Linked DNA regions of Homo sapiens: region 1 is linked to region 2. The links come from fine-mapping of genetic effects on gene expression. Tissue or cell type: whole blood. Region 2 holds a variant in brackets; the other region holds the start of a gene. All regions are shown on one strand. Distances are between the middles of the regions.

What was found. PIP is the estimated chance that this variant, and not a neighbour inherited with it, causes the effect.
Region 1: CMPK1 starts here. The variant in region 2 is fine-mapped to the expression of CMPK1 in whole blood (INTERVAL, PIP 0.95).

Annotation. Positions count from the first base shown.
Region 1 is chr1:47,330,704-47,338,817 of GRCh38, reverse strand. CMPK1 (cytidine/uridine monophosphate kinase 1) reads right to left here and starts at 5,028. Exons shown (of 6, transcript NM_016308.3): 1 at 4,702-5,028. The coding sequence starts at 4,872. RefSeq lists enhancers at 3,906-3,965, 3,482-4,285, 4,286-5,089 and a silencer at 4,476-5,115.
Region 2 is chr1:47,264,921-47,272,920 of GRCh38, reverse strand. STIL (STIL centriolar assembly protein) reads left to right here. Exons shown (of 17, transcript NM_001048166.1): 13 at 680-845; 14 at 3,055-3,286. Among named protein-coding and RNA genes, the nearest start is that of TAL1, 37 kb to the right of the region's middle. The variant AATTC/C (reference allele first, on the strand shown) is at 4,867.

The DNA.
Region 1 (8,114 bases), 66 kb before region 2:
TGACACAGTATTCCCATCATGATTTTATAACTAAATTATTGCACAATAATTCCATTCTGGAAACTTAACTCTAAGTATCACACTGATTTAGAAAATAGCTCATTTTCAAAAACAAATTCAGTATTAGAGGATACAGATTTACAAACAATTAGAAAATAAAACAAATTCTCCAAGTCTGGGTATTTGGTAAAAAAAAAAGAAAAGAAGAAAAAGAAAGAACAGGAAGGAGGGAGGGAGGGAAGGAGAGAGGGAGGGAGGGAAGGAGAGAGGGAGGGAGGGAAGGAGAGAGGGAGGGAGGGAGGGAAGGAAGGAAGGAAGGAGAAAAGCAAACAAAACTGAAAAACATCAGTACAAATAAATGTGCAAAATCAATCCCAAAACCTCCCTCCAATCTTTCCTTCCCAGTACAGAACACTCTCAGAAGACACTGTATCAGATTTGCCTTTACCTTCTCTAGGTCTCCAGGAGCAATTTGCAGAGCAGAATTCACCTCCAGAGAAAAAATACCAGCTTCCCTCTAACAATACCCACTTCACTAATTTCAGTGCCTTAGAGAGCAAGATATCCCTAAGGGTTTTTGGTTTTCTCTTTTTCTTCTCTTCCTGTCAACTGAAGATTCTGTAGCTAGGACTCAAATATGTACTTCTGGCAGCCTGAGTTGGAAATCAACATACTAAAGTAACAATTTCAGGTGCCCTGTGAGCTGCATTAGCTTCAGCCAGATTAATTGGAGAATTTACCGTGGATTTATGTAATTTTTTTCCTACAGGAAAAAAACCTCCAAAACTTACATTATTTTGGAATTTAGTTTATAATTGCCTGTATAAAAAAATATTGAGTCAAAATAAAGAGATTCACAAAGGAAAAAAACAACATACCGCTGACTTCACTAACAATAGATATTCCAGGCCGGGCACAGTGGCTCACACCTGTAATCCCAGCACTTTGGGAGGCCAAGGTGGGTGGATCACGAGGTCAGGAGTTCGAGACCAGCCTGGCCAACATAGTGAAACCCCGTCTCTACTAAAAATACAAAAATTAGCCGGGCATGGTGGCGCGCACCTGTAGTCCAAGCTACTCGGGAGGCTGAGGCAGAGAATCGCTTGAATCCAGAAGATGGAGGCTGCAGCGAGCCAAGATTGCCCCACTGCACACCAGCCTGGCCGACAGCGTGACACTTCGTCTCAAAAAAAAAAAAAAAATAGATATTCCAGTGTCTGTCTAGCCAGCTAGGGAATAGCAATTGCTAAATTATAAACTATTTGGAATTAGTTGATTGACAGCTTAATAAAGTTTATGGCAACTAGACTCAAGAGAATACTTTTCATTAAAGAAGATAACAGTTTAAGGTCAAATAATTGTTGAAATCTTAATAATATAATACATTACAGAACATATCTCATCATGGAATCTTGTAACTGATAATTAACAAGTTTAAAATATTATTTGCCATTACTGAACAGAATAAAGAATAATTGCAGAATGTGTAGATTATTTCATTTATGTATTTATTTATTTATTTATTTTATTTTTTTGAGATGGAATCTCGCTATGTCACCCAGGCTGCACTGCAGTGGCGTGATCTTGGCTCACTGCAAGCTCCGCCTCCCCGGTTCATGCCATTCTCCTGCCTCAGCCTCCCAAGTAGCTGGGACTACAGGCGCCTGCCACCACGCCCGGCTAATTTTTGTATTTTTAGTAGAGATGGGGTTTCACCTTGTTAGCCAGGATGGTCTCAATCTCCTGACCTCGTGATCCACCCGCCTGGGCCTCCCAAACTGCTGGGATTACAGGCGTGAGCTACTGCGCCCAGCCCTGAATGTGTAGATTATTTTTTAACCAGTGTAGTAGTATGGGTATTATTAATTTAGGTACAGATATTTTAAAGGCATATTATGATTCAGAAACAGCATACTGTATTTAAATGCATTCAAATATAACACGCATAAAGTAATTTAAAAGAAAAATACTATTTTGCAATAAAAATAACCAGGCCAGGCATGGCGGCTCATGCCTGTAATGCCAACACTTTGAGAAGCCAAGGCAGTAAGATCCCTTGAGTCTGGGAGTTCGAGACCAGCCTGGGCAATATAGTGAGCCCTGGTTTCTACAAAAACCTGAAAAAAAGTTAGCAGAGAGTGGCAGTGCACACCTGTCATCCCAGCTACTTGGGAGACTGAGGTGAGAGGATGGCTTGAGCCCAGGAGGCAGAGGTTGGAGTGGGCCAAGATGGTACCACAGCACTCCAGCCTGGGTGACACAGAGAGACTCGATCTCAAAACAAACAACAACAACAAAACCCACCAATAAAAATAACCAATATAATAAGATCAGGAAGTTTAAAGTAGAGGTAATAAGATCAGAAGTTTAAAGTGGAGAAAAAAACTATCTGCATCTGTCTCTGTGTGCCAGATATTTTACCTCATTTAATATTCACAAATACCATACAAAACAGCCATTTCTATGTTTTCCCTTTTCACAGGGAACTAAAGGCAACAACATCTCTGGGCCTAGAGAAACAGTAAATGGCAGAGTCAGGGTTTGAACCTATATCTCTTTGACTCTAAAGTCTTTGCCCCTTCCCCCATCATGCTATTTAAGAAAGATCACATATACTAAACAAAAATTTGAAATCACTCCCACTTTTCACTTGCCATTTATTTATTTATTTATTTATTTCTGAGACGGAGTCTCGCTCTGTCGCCCAGGCTGGAGTGCAGCAGCCAGTCTCTTTACTTTTTAAAAGACAAGTGACAAGGCCAGGCACGGTGGCTCATGCCTATAATCCCAGCACTTTGGGAGGCTGAGGCGGGCAGATCACGAGGTCAAGAGTTCGAGATCAGCCTGGCCAACATGGTGAAACCCTGTCTCTACCAAAAATACAAAAATTAGCCAGGCGTGGTGGCGCACGCCTGTAATCCCAGCTATGCAGAGGCTGAGGCAGGAAAATCGCTTGAACCTGGGAGGCGGAGGTTGCAGTGTGCTGAGATCGCACCACCGCACTCCAGCCTGGTGACGGAGTGAGACTGTCACAAAAACAAAAACAAAAACAAAAAAACAACAAAAGAAAGAGAACCAACAAAAAAAAATTTTTTTAAGAGGATGTAAATGTTATGTATTTTTTTAGTTGGACTAGTTCCACTTTGACACCTAAAATGATTTTTTTTTTTTTTTTTTTTTTGAGACGGAGTTTCACTCTTTCGCCCAGGCTAGTGTGCAGTGGCGCGATATGGGCTCACCGCAACCTCCGCCTTCCGGTTTCAAGCGATTCTCCTGCCTCAGCCTTCGGAGTAGCTGGGATTACAGGCGCCCGCCACCACGCCAGGCTAATTTTTGTATTTTTAGTAAAGACAACGTTTCGCCATGTTAGCCAGGCTGGTCTCGAACTCCTGACCTCGTGATCCGCCAGCCTCGGCCTCCCAAAGTGCTGGGATTACAGGAGTGAGCCACAGCGCCTGGCAAAATGATCAATATTTATAAATACATCTGTCCAACACATAATGACTTGTTGAACTCATCTAACTTTCTCTGGATGCTATTTAGGGAATAAAATACAGGACAGGAGTTGATTGTTATGAACATATAAGGAGAGAAGCAAAAGCCCCATGCTAATATTGGCCATATCCTAGAAGAGGAGGAAATTATAAGTTCTAGGTCAAAAAAACTTTTGTTGGTTACAGGGTTTCAGAGTGATTTCACTAGAGGCCACCAATGGTCGCCTCTTCTGTTTCTAGATATCCTGTTTTCCTTCTTTCCCAAGCATTCCCCAGATTGTCCATGAAGCCTTTTTTTCCCACAGTGTCAATGCAGCTAACCAACCATACATCTAGCTCAAAAATTGTTAAAAGAATTGAACTGGTAACCTGTCTCAAAGCAAAAGAAAAAAAAGTAACAGCATTTTACATTTGGGAGGTGTTTTATATCCTGAGAAAATCTGGGTTCAGAGACTCTTTTTACTGTATTACAAGGGCTAACTGAGGCTGGGAGACAGGAAGTGACCGAGGGCCGAGCGTGAGTTGGCAGCAGGGCCAAAGGTTGAAGCTTGATCTCAGAACAGCACTCCCGGCTTTCCCCATCCCCGACCCGGGCCGAGCCTCAGGGCTGGCTCCGCCCTAAAGCTTGCGGGGACGGGGCTCGAGAGTGCCAGCGGCAGCCCACAGCACGCCTAAAATAACACCCCGCCCCACGGGCCTCCTTTCTAGAGTAAAGACACGTTCGGTGACAGTGCGGAGTTTAGGGAACCAGAGGGAAGGCGCGGAGAAGAAAAATAGGTCTCTCCTTCAGACAACTGTGGGCGCACACGGCCTCTAACCCAAATCCGCGCTCCTGCTGCCTTCACCTGCCACACGATCAGCGACACGCTAACCTCTGCGCGCTGGGGGACCCCCAAAGGTTGGCCTCCGGGATCCCTCTCCCAGCCCACTCTAGAGACGAATCTGGTCCCCAAAATGTAAGAAAAGAAGGGGCGCAGGAACAAAGCGACCTCAAGCGGTGGCCCCCAAGGCGGGCGGGCGCGGACTACAAGTCCCGGCACGCCGCGCGCCGGCGGCCCTCGGCCACTGCCACGCGGGCGGCGCGGTGGCCGCCGGGACTCGTAGTCTGCGGCTCGGCGACTCCGCGGGGCGCGGACTAGGGGCGGCGGGACAGGCCGGCCCGCATCCCGTCAAGCCCCAAGGAGCCCGCCTGCTGCCCGGGCCTCACCTCGACGATGCGGGCGCACTGGGTCCCCTTGCCGGCGCCGGGGCCGCCGAGGACGAACACGACCAGCGGCTTCATGAGACGTGGAGAGCAGAGGAGAATCGGCCGGCGGGTCTGCAGCAGGAAGCTAAGGCCCAGGACGTGGAGCAGCCCGCTGCGGCAGCGGCTCAGCATACACCGCGCCTCGGCCGGACGCTGAGGGAGCTGACAGCGGCCGGCGCGGCGCGGGGCGGGGCGGGGAGGCGGCGGGAGAAAGGGGCGGGCTGAGCCGGCGCCCGCCGCGGCCCCGCCGCCGTGGCTGCCCGGGCGTCCGCGGCCCTGTCGGAAGGGGAGGAGCTTCGCACGGCGGCGGCGTCTCGGCGACACTCGTGCGGTCCGCGCCAGCTTTCCTCCAACCCTTGGGTGGTTATTAGTGCTTTCTGACTGCAGATATTTTATCCTGCGCCCTCAAGTGTCTGGTGCTGAGCTGGAGGCTGGGACGTGATCCGCGGGAGAGCAAAACCTATTGTCTCTGCTCGCAATGAGTTTCCATTCCAGCCAGTGAGGTATGGGGAGGTAGCCAGTGTGAATGAGTAAACACCAGTACATACAAAAGGCAGTACGATTTTGAAGAAATAACAAGTAGGACATAAGATGGCCAGGGTCGCCAGAGAAGGCTTCAGAAGAGGTGACATTCAAGCCAAGACAAAAGGATAGAAAAGAGCGAAACCAGGCAAACACCAGGATAGAGTGTCCCACAGAGAAAAGCATGTGCAAAAAATCTAAGTTGGTTTGGCATGTTAAAGCAATTGAAGGAAGGCCTGGCTGGGCGCGGTGGCTCACGCCTGTAATCCCAGCATTTTGGGAGGCTGAGGCAGGAGGATGGCTTGAGCCCAGGAGTTCGAGACCAGCCTGGACAACATGACGAGACCCCGTCTCGACCAAAAATTTAAAAGCCGGGCACCGTGACCCGTGCCTGTGATCCCAGCTACTGGGATGTTCACTTGAGCCTAGGAGCCGTAATAGCACCACTGCACTCCTGCCTAGGTGACAATGAGACTGCTTCAAAAAAAAAAAAGGAAAAAAGGCCAGTGACAGTGAGACCAGGGCTGAGTCAAATGAGGGGAGAATGGAAGGTGAAAAGTTGAGAAAGTGAGGTCGGTGGCAGATCAGGACTTTTGATTATGGAAAGGAATTTGGGCTGTATTCTAACAGCAATGGAAGCCCTTTAACTCCGTTCGCCTGCCCCCTTCATTAGGGAAGAATCTTAAGGGAGAAGAAAAGGAGACGTTCAAGAACTGAGCCTTGGTGCATACAGGCCTTTAAAAGGCCTTCTGGCCAACGTTAAGAGCTCATTTGATATTTGAGGTAACGGATTCAAAATAATTGAAGATGTTTGGCCATTCAGGCACAGGCAGAGAAGGCAGCTTGTTGCATTTACTGAGGGTTGGGATTTTGCCTGGCAAGTACAACAGAGAGAGGGGGCCAAGTGATGAGAGTGTTTGGAAGAGAATGTTCATGATGCTGTGTGTAGAATCAAAACCATACAGGAAAGCAAATAATGGCACATGAAGCCTGGTAGTGGAGGGGTTGGAGGGTGGTGGGGAAAGGGACCAATGTCTTAGAGCATTGGCCCAAGAAAGATTGCAGTGGGGTATATGAGCAAGTGCTCTGGCAGTATGGATGCTGCTGGTCTGAGTGGGATATTTGGAATTGAAATGTCCCAGCTTCTGAGTTTCTGATGATGCCAAGGTCCAGGGTGAGACCATGGGAATGGAAGACTGAGGCAGAATGCATGTCCTGTTTTTAGAACTAAGAGTCCAGGGTGTTAGATTTGTCGTACAGGTACAAGTTCAAGTCAGATAGTGCTGGAGTGAACAAAGACTATGGGAAAGGAACTAAGCTGTTTAGGGCAGAGTGACCAGGACGTTAGTAAACGAAAGCAAACAGGAGAGGAAGATAGTGGTATAGCCCTCTGTCTGACCACCCCCATTCTCCTTTTTCTTTTGGTGGTCCTTTCTTAGCTCACTCAGCATTTTCTGGCTCTTCCCCATCTCTACTCTCTCTCCTTGCTTTCTTTTTGTTGTTGTTGTTTTTACTTATTCCCATCCTTCCTACCCTTCTTTTCCCATTTATAAGTCCCTCCCTTCTCCCTGTCTCTTTTCCTGTCCTTCTCCTCACCTACTTGCCTTTGTTTGCCCTTCTTTTCCATTCTCCCTTTAATTTCTACCTCTTTCCTCTCCACAACTTCTACCTTTTCCTTCCCACCATAGAAAGGAGAATGGGATATTTTTTATTATCACAGCTGGAAAAAAATTTTTTTGGGGGGGATAGAGTCTCACTCTGTCACCCACGCTGGAATGCAGTGGTGCCATCTTGGCTCACTGCAACCTCCACCTCCCAGGTTCAAGCGATTCTTCTGCCTCAGCCTCCCAAGTAGCTGGGATTACAGGCACCTGCCACCACCCCTGGTTAATTTTTGTATTTTTAGTAGAGAGGGGGTTTCACCATGTTGTCCAGGCTGGTCTTGAACTCCTGGGCTCAAGTGATCCTCCTGCCTTGGCCTCCCAAAGTGCTGGGATTGCAGGCATGAGCCACCGCGCCCAGCCAGGCCTACACTACACTACAGGTGGTGGTGTGCACCTGTAGTCCCAGATGCTCGGAAGGCTGAGATGGGAGGCTGAGGTGGGAGGATCCCTTGAGCCCAGGAGGTGGAGGCTGAGGTGGGAGCAGCCCTTGAGCCTAGGAGGTGCAAACTCCAGTGAGCCAAGATCGTGCTACTACATTCTAACCTGGGCAACAGAGCCAGACCCTGTCTCAAAACAAAAACAAAACATTTTTCTATGGATACTGAAATTTGAATTTATATAATTTGCATGTGTCCCAAAATATTATTTATTTTTATTTTTAAAATCCATTTTAAAATGTGAACATTATTTTGAGCTTGAAGGCTATACAAAAACAGGGACCCACGTTTAGATATGTGAATTTTCACATAAAAAAACACGGCCGGGCGCAGCGGCTCATGCATGTAATCCCAGCACTTTGCGAGGCCAAGGTGGGCAGATCACCTGAGGTTGGAAACCAGCTTGGCTAACACGGTGAAACCCCAGTTCTACTAAAAATACAAAATTAGCTGGATGTGGTGGTGCATGCCTGTAATCCCAGCTACTTGGGAGGCTGAGGCAGGAGAATTGCTTGAACCCAGGAGGTGGAGGTTGCAGTGAGCTGAGATCGCACCACTGCACTCCAGCCTGGCGACAGAGCAAGACTCTGTCTCAAAAAAAAGAAGGCTCCAAACCCTTCAGCTTCTGGGGAGGAGGAGCTAGGACATGGGCAGCCAAGAACAAGGACAATTGGTCATATTGGGAATGGGTAGCAGGAGTATGAAAAAGGCCATATCAAAACAAATGTGTCTTCTTTTCCTTTGTTCACAC
Region 2 (8,000 bases):
TTTACCTTTATAATAATCTTGTGTGATATGTTCAGTATTTGGTATATGGAGTCAGAGAGTCAGAGTATACCTCCAATCTAACTTTTGATTTATAAGTGAAATAGGAATATAATGTTAGTTTGAAGTATTAACCATTCACACTTTTTTACATGAGTATCAACTTACGAATACTAAGCTAAACACCTTTATGTATTGCTTTTAAATGTATACTTAAAGGCTGAGGTGGGCAGATTGCTTGAGCCCAGGAGTTTGAGAACAGCCTGGGCAACATGGCAAAACCCCATCTCTACAAAACATGTGAAAATTAACCAGGCATGGTGGTGCATGGCTGTCATCCCAGCCACCCCAGGAGGCTGAGGTGGGAGGATCGATTGAGCCCAGGAGGTTGAGGCTGCAATAAGCCATGATTGCACCACGGCTGGGTGACAGCCTGGGTGACAGAGCAAGACCTTGTCTCAAAAAAAAAAAAAAATAGTATACTTAAAGTGCTTCTTAATAACTAGTGATAATGGCTTTCTATATTGAATAAGTTTCATGGTATGGTCTAGTTGAAATTTGAGAAAATAGACTTAAAAGTCAGTTTCTTATAATTAGGGCGCTTTGTAATTCATTATTAAACTGCTGCCAGTTTTGTTGATTACTTCCCTGTCAGTTTAAAGTATGTTTTTAATTGATACAGATTCAGCGTTTGTTGGAAGCACAGTCTCTGATGCCCTGTTCCCCTAAGACAACTGCTGTTGAAGACACAGTGCAAGCTGGAAGACAAATGGAGTTGGTTTCTGTGGAAGCACAGTCTTCCCCTGGCTTGCACATGAGAAAAGGTGTAAGCATTGCTGTGAGCACAGGTAATTTCAGTTTTTTTTTAATTTGTAAGGAAATTGTTAAAAATGCTTTTCATATCTGGTTTTTGAATTTTATGTTCAAATTGGTGCATGGTGCAGTAGGACCAAAACCAAGGTGATGAGAGTATGACTTAAGTTTTTGTGTGATTTTAGTCTTTGTGAAATAAAACTACACCTGCAAACTGCATAACATGATAAAGTGTTTGATTTTGCTACTTTTCTAGGCTGGACCCAATTCTGGTTTTTTTTTTGTTTTTTGTTTTTTTTTTTGAAATGGAGTCTCGCTGTGTTGCCCAAGCTAGAGTGCAGTGTGGTGCACTCTCAGCTCACTGCAACCTCCACCATCCTAGGTTCAAGCAATCCTCCTGTCTCAGCCTCCCAAAGTGTTGGGATTACAGGCGTGAGCCACCGCGTCCAGCCAGTCTTGTTTGTATTAATTTATTTTCATAAAATCACCCAAGTATATCCTCAGAGTAGAAACCATTTTGACTATGATTTACTTTTTTTTTTTTTTTTTTTTGAGACGGAGTCTCACTCCGTCACACAGGCTGGAGTGCAATGGCATAGTCTCGGCTCACTGCAACCTCCGCCTCCTGGGTTCAAGTGATTTTCCTGAGTAGCTGGGACTACAAGCGCCTGCCACCACACCTGGCTAATTTTTGTATTTTTAGTAGAGATGGGGTTTCACTATGTTGGTCAGGCTGGTCTCCAACTCCTGACCGCATGATCCACCCACCTCAGCCTCCCAAAGGGCTGGGATTGTATTACAGGCATGAGCCACTGTGCCCAGGCTACTTTTTGGTTTTAACCATCTGTTTAAACCATTATGTATTAGCAATATTCCCCAAATTATAGAATGCCTATGGCTCGTGGTACAAAAGATGATTTAGGGTGTTATACAGATTAATATTTATATTTTGTAAATATATCTTTTCCAATACTCATAGGTATAAATACAATAAGCATATCAAATCTGTGATTTTAGAGAAATAATGAGGCTCAGTAAAAAAAGAGTTAATTTAAAGAAAGAGTAAGTAAACAATATTACATGCAAATAGCTCTGAAGATAGGTGTAAGTGCTTCATAAAGATTGAGAAATTGGCTGGGCGCAGTGGCTCATGCCTATAATGTTTGCACTTTGGGAGGTCAAGGCAGGTGGATTGCCTGATGCTAGGAGTTCGAGACCAGCCTGGTCAAAATGATGAAGCCCCATCTTTAAAAAAAATACAAAAATTAGCCACATATGGTGGCGCACACCTGCAGTCCCAGCTACTCGGGAAGCTGAGGTGGGAGGATCACCTGAGCCCAGGGACGTTGAGGCTGCAGTGAGCTGTGATTGTGTCACTGCACTCCAGCCTGAGCAACAAAGTGACACCCTGTCTTAAAAAAAAAAAAAAAAAAAAAAAAAGATTGGGAAACACTTGATTTTTTTTAATACCTGCCTGATATTACAGATATTACAGATGTCTGATGCATCACCAATGTAGTCTTTTAAATATTGCATTTAAGTGTCAAAACCAGAGAACCTAGGGATTTGTATTTTATATATTATCTCATATTATTCAGAGCAGCAGTTTTCAACATACACACCCCATCCCACGGATCATATTCAGAATCTTAATATGTAAAGCAAATCATTTCAGAGCCACCCTTCTTGAAAAAGCAGAACCCAGAATGTGCCCTTCCACCCGACCCGTCCCCTAGTGTTTTGTCTTTCTGTCTTCCACCTACCTCTTCCTGGCATTTCTGAGGAAATATAATCTAAAAACTTAGTTCTAAGTAATTGTGTGTGTGTGTGTGTGTGTGTGTGTGTGTGTGTGTGTATATATATATATATTTTTTTTTTTTTTTGAGCCAGAGTTGCCCAGGCTGGAATGCAGTAGCACAATCACAGCTCATTGCAGCATCGACCTCCTGGGCTCAAGTGATCTTACACCTCTGCCTCCTGAGTAGATGGGACTACAGGCACACCACCACACCTGGCTAATTTTTTTGTATTTTTTTTGTAGAGACAGGATTTCTCCATGTTGCCCAGGCTGGTCTCGAACTCCTGAGCTCAAGTGATCCTCCCGCCTCTGCCTCTCAAAGTGTTGGGATTATAGGCGTGAGCCATTGCACCCAGCCAATATGGCTATTCTTAACAAAGGTTTGGCAGAGTATTATTTTTAAAGTTGAATGTTTGTTTCAGTATCTTAAATTATTTAACCTCCAGGTGCTAGCTTGTTTTGGAATGCAGCAGGTGAGGATCAAGAGCCTGACTCTCAAATGAAGCAAGATGATACCAAAATTTCCAGTGAGGACATGAATTTTTCTGTCGATATTAATAATGAAGTCACAAGTCTTCCAGGTAGTGCATCTTCATTAAAAGCAGTTGATATTCCCAGTTTTGAAGAGAGCAACATTGCTGTGGAAGAAGAATTTAACCAGCCACTTTCTGTATCCAAGTAAGGTCTCTTTGATTTAGTCTTTCATCCTACTTTCAAAAAAAATTTTTTTTGATAGACAAATAATAATTGTATATATTTGTGGGGCACAATGTTTAGATGCATGTTTACAGTATGGAATGATTAAATCAGACCAACAAATCTATCACTTCACATACTTAACTTTTTCTGTGGTAAAAACATTTGAAGTCTACTATTAGCAATTTTGAAATATACAATGTATTATTATTCATTACAGTTGCTGTTCTGTTCAGGTTTTTTTTTGTTTTTAATTCTAATTTCTTTAAAGTCTTCTAACTCAGAAATGATATATTTTCTAACTGGTATTTTCTTTTATGTCTTTACTTGATATGATTTCTATGTAACTGACAACTCTGAGCCTTCTAGAACCATTTCCAGATGTCAGTCTTTGGCTATATTAACAGTCTGGATGAATCAGAAATCGGAAGAAAACTTCAAAAATACACAAGCTCAGGCCTCACCCTAGAGGATCTGATAATATTAGGTTCCAGATACAGATGGAGAAATTTTTTTTTTTTTTTTTTTGACGGAGTCCCGCTCTGTTGCCCAGGCTGGAGTGCAGTGGTGCAATCTCGGCTCACTGCAATCTCCACCTCCCGGGTTCACGCCATTCTCCTGCCTCCCGTGTAGCTGGGACTACAGGCTCCTGCCACCATGCCCGGCTAATTCCGTGTTTGTATTTTTAGTAGAGATGGGGTTTCACCATGTTAGCCAGGATGGCCTCGATCTCCTGACCTCGTGATCTGCCTGCCTCGGCCTCCCAAAGTGCTGGGATTACAGGCGTGAGCCACCACACCTGGCGGAGAAATTTCTTTTATTTAATTTATTTATTTATTTATTTATTTATTTATTTATGAGATGGAGTTTCTCTCTTGTTGCTCAGTCTAGAGTGCAATGGTGCGATCTTGACTCACTGCAATCCCTGCCTCCTGGGTTCAAGTGATTCTCCTGCCTCAGCCTCCTGAGTAGCTGGGATTACAGACACCTGCCACCATGCTGGGCTAATTTTGTTTGTATTTTTTTTAGAGATGGGGTTTCGCCGTGTTGGCCAGGCTGGTCGTGAACTCCTGACCTCAGGTGATCCACCCACCTTGACCTCCTAAAGTGCTGGAATTACAGGCATGAGCCACTGTGCCCAGCCTATTTTATTTTATGTATTTATTTTTTGAGACAAGAGTCTCGCTTTTTCACCCAGGCTGGAGTGCAATGGCACTGTCTTGGCTCACTGCAACCTCTGCCTCCCAGGTTCAAGGCATTCTTGAGCCTCAGCCTCCCAAGCAGCTGGGATTACAGGCGTGCGCCACCACGCCCAGCTAATTTTTGTATTTTTAGTAGAGATGGGGCTTCCCATGTTGGCCAGGCTGATCTGGAACTCCTCACCTGAGGTGATCCGCCTGCCTCAGCCTTCCAAAGTGCTGGGATTATAGGCATGAGCCACTGTGAGATGGCGAGATTTCTAAAGATTCTCCGTATTGCCATTATATATAAAAGAGTCTATTTTTGAGTGATAGAACCTTAATATTTATATATGAAATGTTATCTGAGATTTGCTTCAAATT[AATTC/C]TGTGGGAGAATGAAATGGCTAGGAGTATAAATGAAATAAGATTGGCTATTTGGTAATTTTTGAAACTGATTGTATATGGTGATTTGTAAAATAATTCTCTCATGTTTGAAATTTTTCATTATGAAATTTTCCATTAAATAAGGATCGTAGGCTAGGCTCAGTGACTCTTACCTGTAACTGGGCACGGTGGTGCACACATGTAGTCCCAGGTACTTGGGAGGCTGAGGCAGGAGAATTGCCTGAACCTGGGAGGTGGAGGTTGCAGTGAGCCGAGATTGCGCCACTGCATTCCAGCCTGGGTGACAGAGCAAGACTAAGTCTCAAAACAAAACAAAACAAAAAACGGATTCTAAAGTAAATTTTTTTTTTTTTTTTTTTTTTTAGATACTCGCTCTGTCGCCCTGGCTGGAGTACGGTGGCGTGATCTTGGCTCACTGCAACCTCAGCCTCCCAAGTAGCTGGGACTACAGGCACGGGCCACCACACCTGGCTAATTTTTGTGTTTTTAGTAGAGACAGGGTTTTGCCATGTTAGCCAGGGTGGTCTTGAACTCCTGACCTCAGGTTAGCCACCTGCCTCGGCCTTTCAAATTGTTGGGATTACTGGTATGAGCCACTGCACCTGGCCTAAAGTAATTTATATCCTCAGCAAATTTGGAAACAAACTCAGCAAATATTTGAGTTTCTGGTACGTGCTACCACAAAACTAGACACTAAATATCAAATACTAGGTTAGGCAAAGCTCCTAACTTTATGGAATTTAACCACATGAGCAGCAAATAACATAGTTTCAGATAGTGACAACTGCTCTGAAAAAGTAAACTAGAGTGATCAAGTGGAGTGTAACTGGGATGGTAACCTGGGAACAAGGTGTTATATTAAGTAGAGTGGTAAAGGAAACCATCTCTGTGAGGGGGTGACATTTGAGTAGTGACCTGAATGATGAGAAGGAGCCAGTCATGATAATATCTGGGGATGAGTATTCCAAGTGGAGGAAAAAGCAAGTGTAATGGCAAGTGTGGGTTTAAAAGTTACAGAAAAAAGCATGAAAGCCAGTGTGGCTGGACATAGTGATTGAGAGGGAGAGTATAGGAAATGAAGTCTGAGATACAGGCAGGAGCCAAGTTATATGGGGCTTTGTAGGATATAGAAAAGATTTTTTAATTTATTGCATGCTCATTAAAGCTAGTGGAGGATTTTAGATAATGGAGTGTTATGATCTGATTTTCATTTTTTGAAGACCATTCTAATTGTTTCGTGGAGAACTGAAGGATGTTAAGAGTGGAAGTTAAGATACTAACTGATTAATAAACTAAAGACCAAGTGAGATGAAGATGTCTTGGACTTGTGGAATTCGTGGAAGGGATCAGGTGTAGGATAAATTTTGAAGGTAAAAGAAAAATGTAGGTATAAAACATCCCAGGATAATAGCACATGAAACAGTTTAAAGAGGTTAATTTGAAATTCAAGACCAGGCTAGGCAAAATAGTGAGACCCTGTCTCTATAAAAAAATATTTTAACTTAGCTGGGTGTGGTGGTATGTGCCTGTAGTAGTTCCACCTACTCAGGAGGCTGAAACAGGAGGATCGCTTGAGACCAGAAGTTTGAGGTTGCAGTGATCTATGATAAGTGCCATTGTACTCTGGCTTCAATAACAGAGTGAGACTCCATTTCTAAAAATAAAAAAAGGTGAACTGGTAAGGTGACATGGGGCAGGCAGTGGATTACTTTTTAGAAATTAATAAGCCTTGTGATATTTGACATTTTAAATCATTGTGATTACAATAATGGTTAAGACAATAAACATGTCCCTTCAGAAAACTACAGAGAAACATCTCCTTTTAGTATAGTATATGTTTTAATCATATGATAAAATTAAGCACTCATTGTGTGTGCCACAGTATACAGAAAAGCTCTTTTGTGTATGTTAGATTGAGTTCCTGCAGGGTAAGGATCATAGTAATTTCCATATTTTTAGAATTTGCTGGGCTTGGTGGCTCATGCCTGTAATCTTAGCACTTTGGGAGGCCAAAGTGAACCGATTGCTTGTGCTAAGGTATTTGAGACCAGCCTGGGTAACATGGCGAAACCCTGTCTCTACCAAAATTACAGAAATTAGCCCTTGGTCCCAGCTGTTCGGGAGGCTAAGGTGGGAGGATTGCTGGAGCCTGGGAAGTTGAGTCTGCAGTGAGCTGTGATCACGCCACTGCACTCCAGCCTGGGTGACAGAGAGAGACTGTTTCTTTTTTTTTTTTTTTTTTTTTTTGAGACAGTCTTGCTCTGTCATCCAGGTTGGAGTGCAGTGGCGCAATCTCAGCTCAGCTCACTGCACCCTCCGCCTCCCGGGTACAAGCAGTTCTCCTGCCTCAGCCTGCCAAGTAGCTAGGATTACAGGCACTTGCCACTATGCCCGGCTAAGTTTTGTATTTTTAGTAGAGACGGGGTTTCTCCATGTTGGCCAGGCTGGTCTCCAACTCCTGACCTCAGATGATCTGCCCGCCTCAGCCTCCCAAAGTGCTGGGATTACAGGTGTGAGTCACCATGCCCGGCCAACTCTGTTTCAAAAAAAGTAATTAAAAAAAACTACAGTTTGACCCAGTGTCTGGTTCCCCATGGGGTGAGCCCCAAAGTAGGTCTGCAGTTTATTTAGAATAATTATAGAAACTGAGGACAAAGAGGAGCAAACCATGGGATCTTTATTTATTCTCCTTAACTCTGTAAACTGCAGACTACTTTCTAGAATAATGGGGGTTTTCAGATTGGAATTTTAAAAAATATCCAATCTTGTGTTTTTTTTTTTTTTTTTTTTTTTGGGAGATGGAGTGTTGCTCTGTTGCTCAGGCTGGAGTGCAGTGGTGTGATCTTGGTTCACTGCAACCTCCACCTCCTGGGTTCCGGAGATCCTTCTGCCTCAGCCTCTCAAGTAGCTGGGATTACAAGTGTACGCCACCACACCCAGCTAATTTTTGTATTTTTAGTGAAGACGGTGTTTCACCGTGTTGGCCAGGCTGGTCTCGAACTCCTGACCTCAAGTGATCTGCTTGTCTCGGCCTCCCAAAGTGCTGGGATTAAAGATGTGAGCCACCATGCCCTTGTTTTGGCTTTTTTTTTTTTTTTTTAACTTTAGAA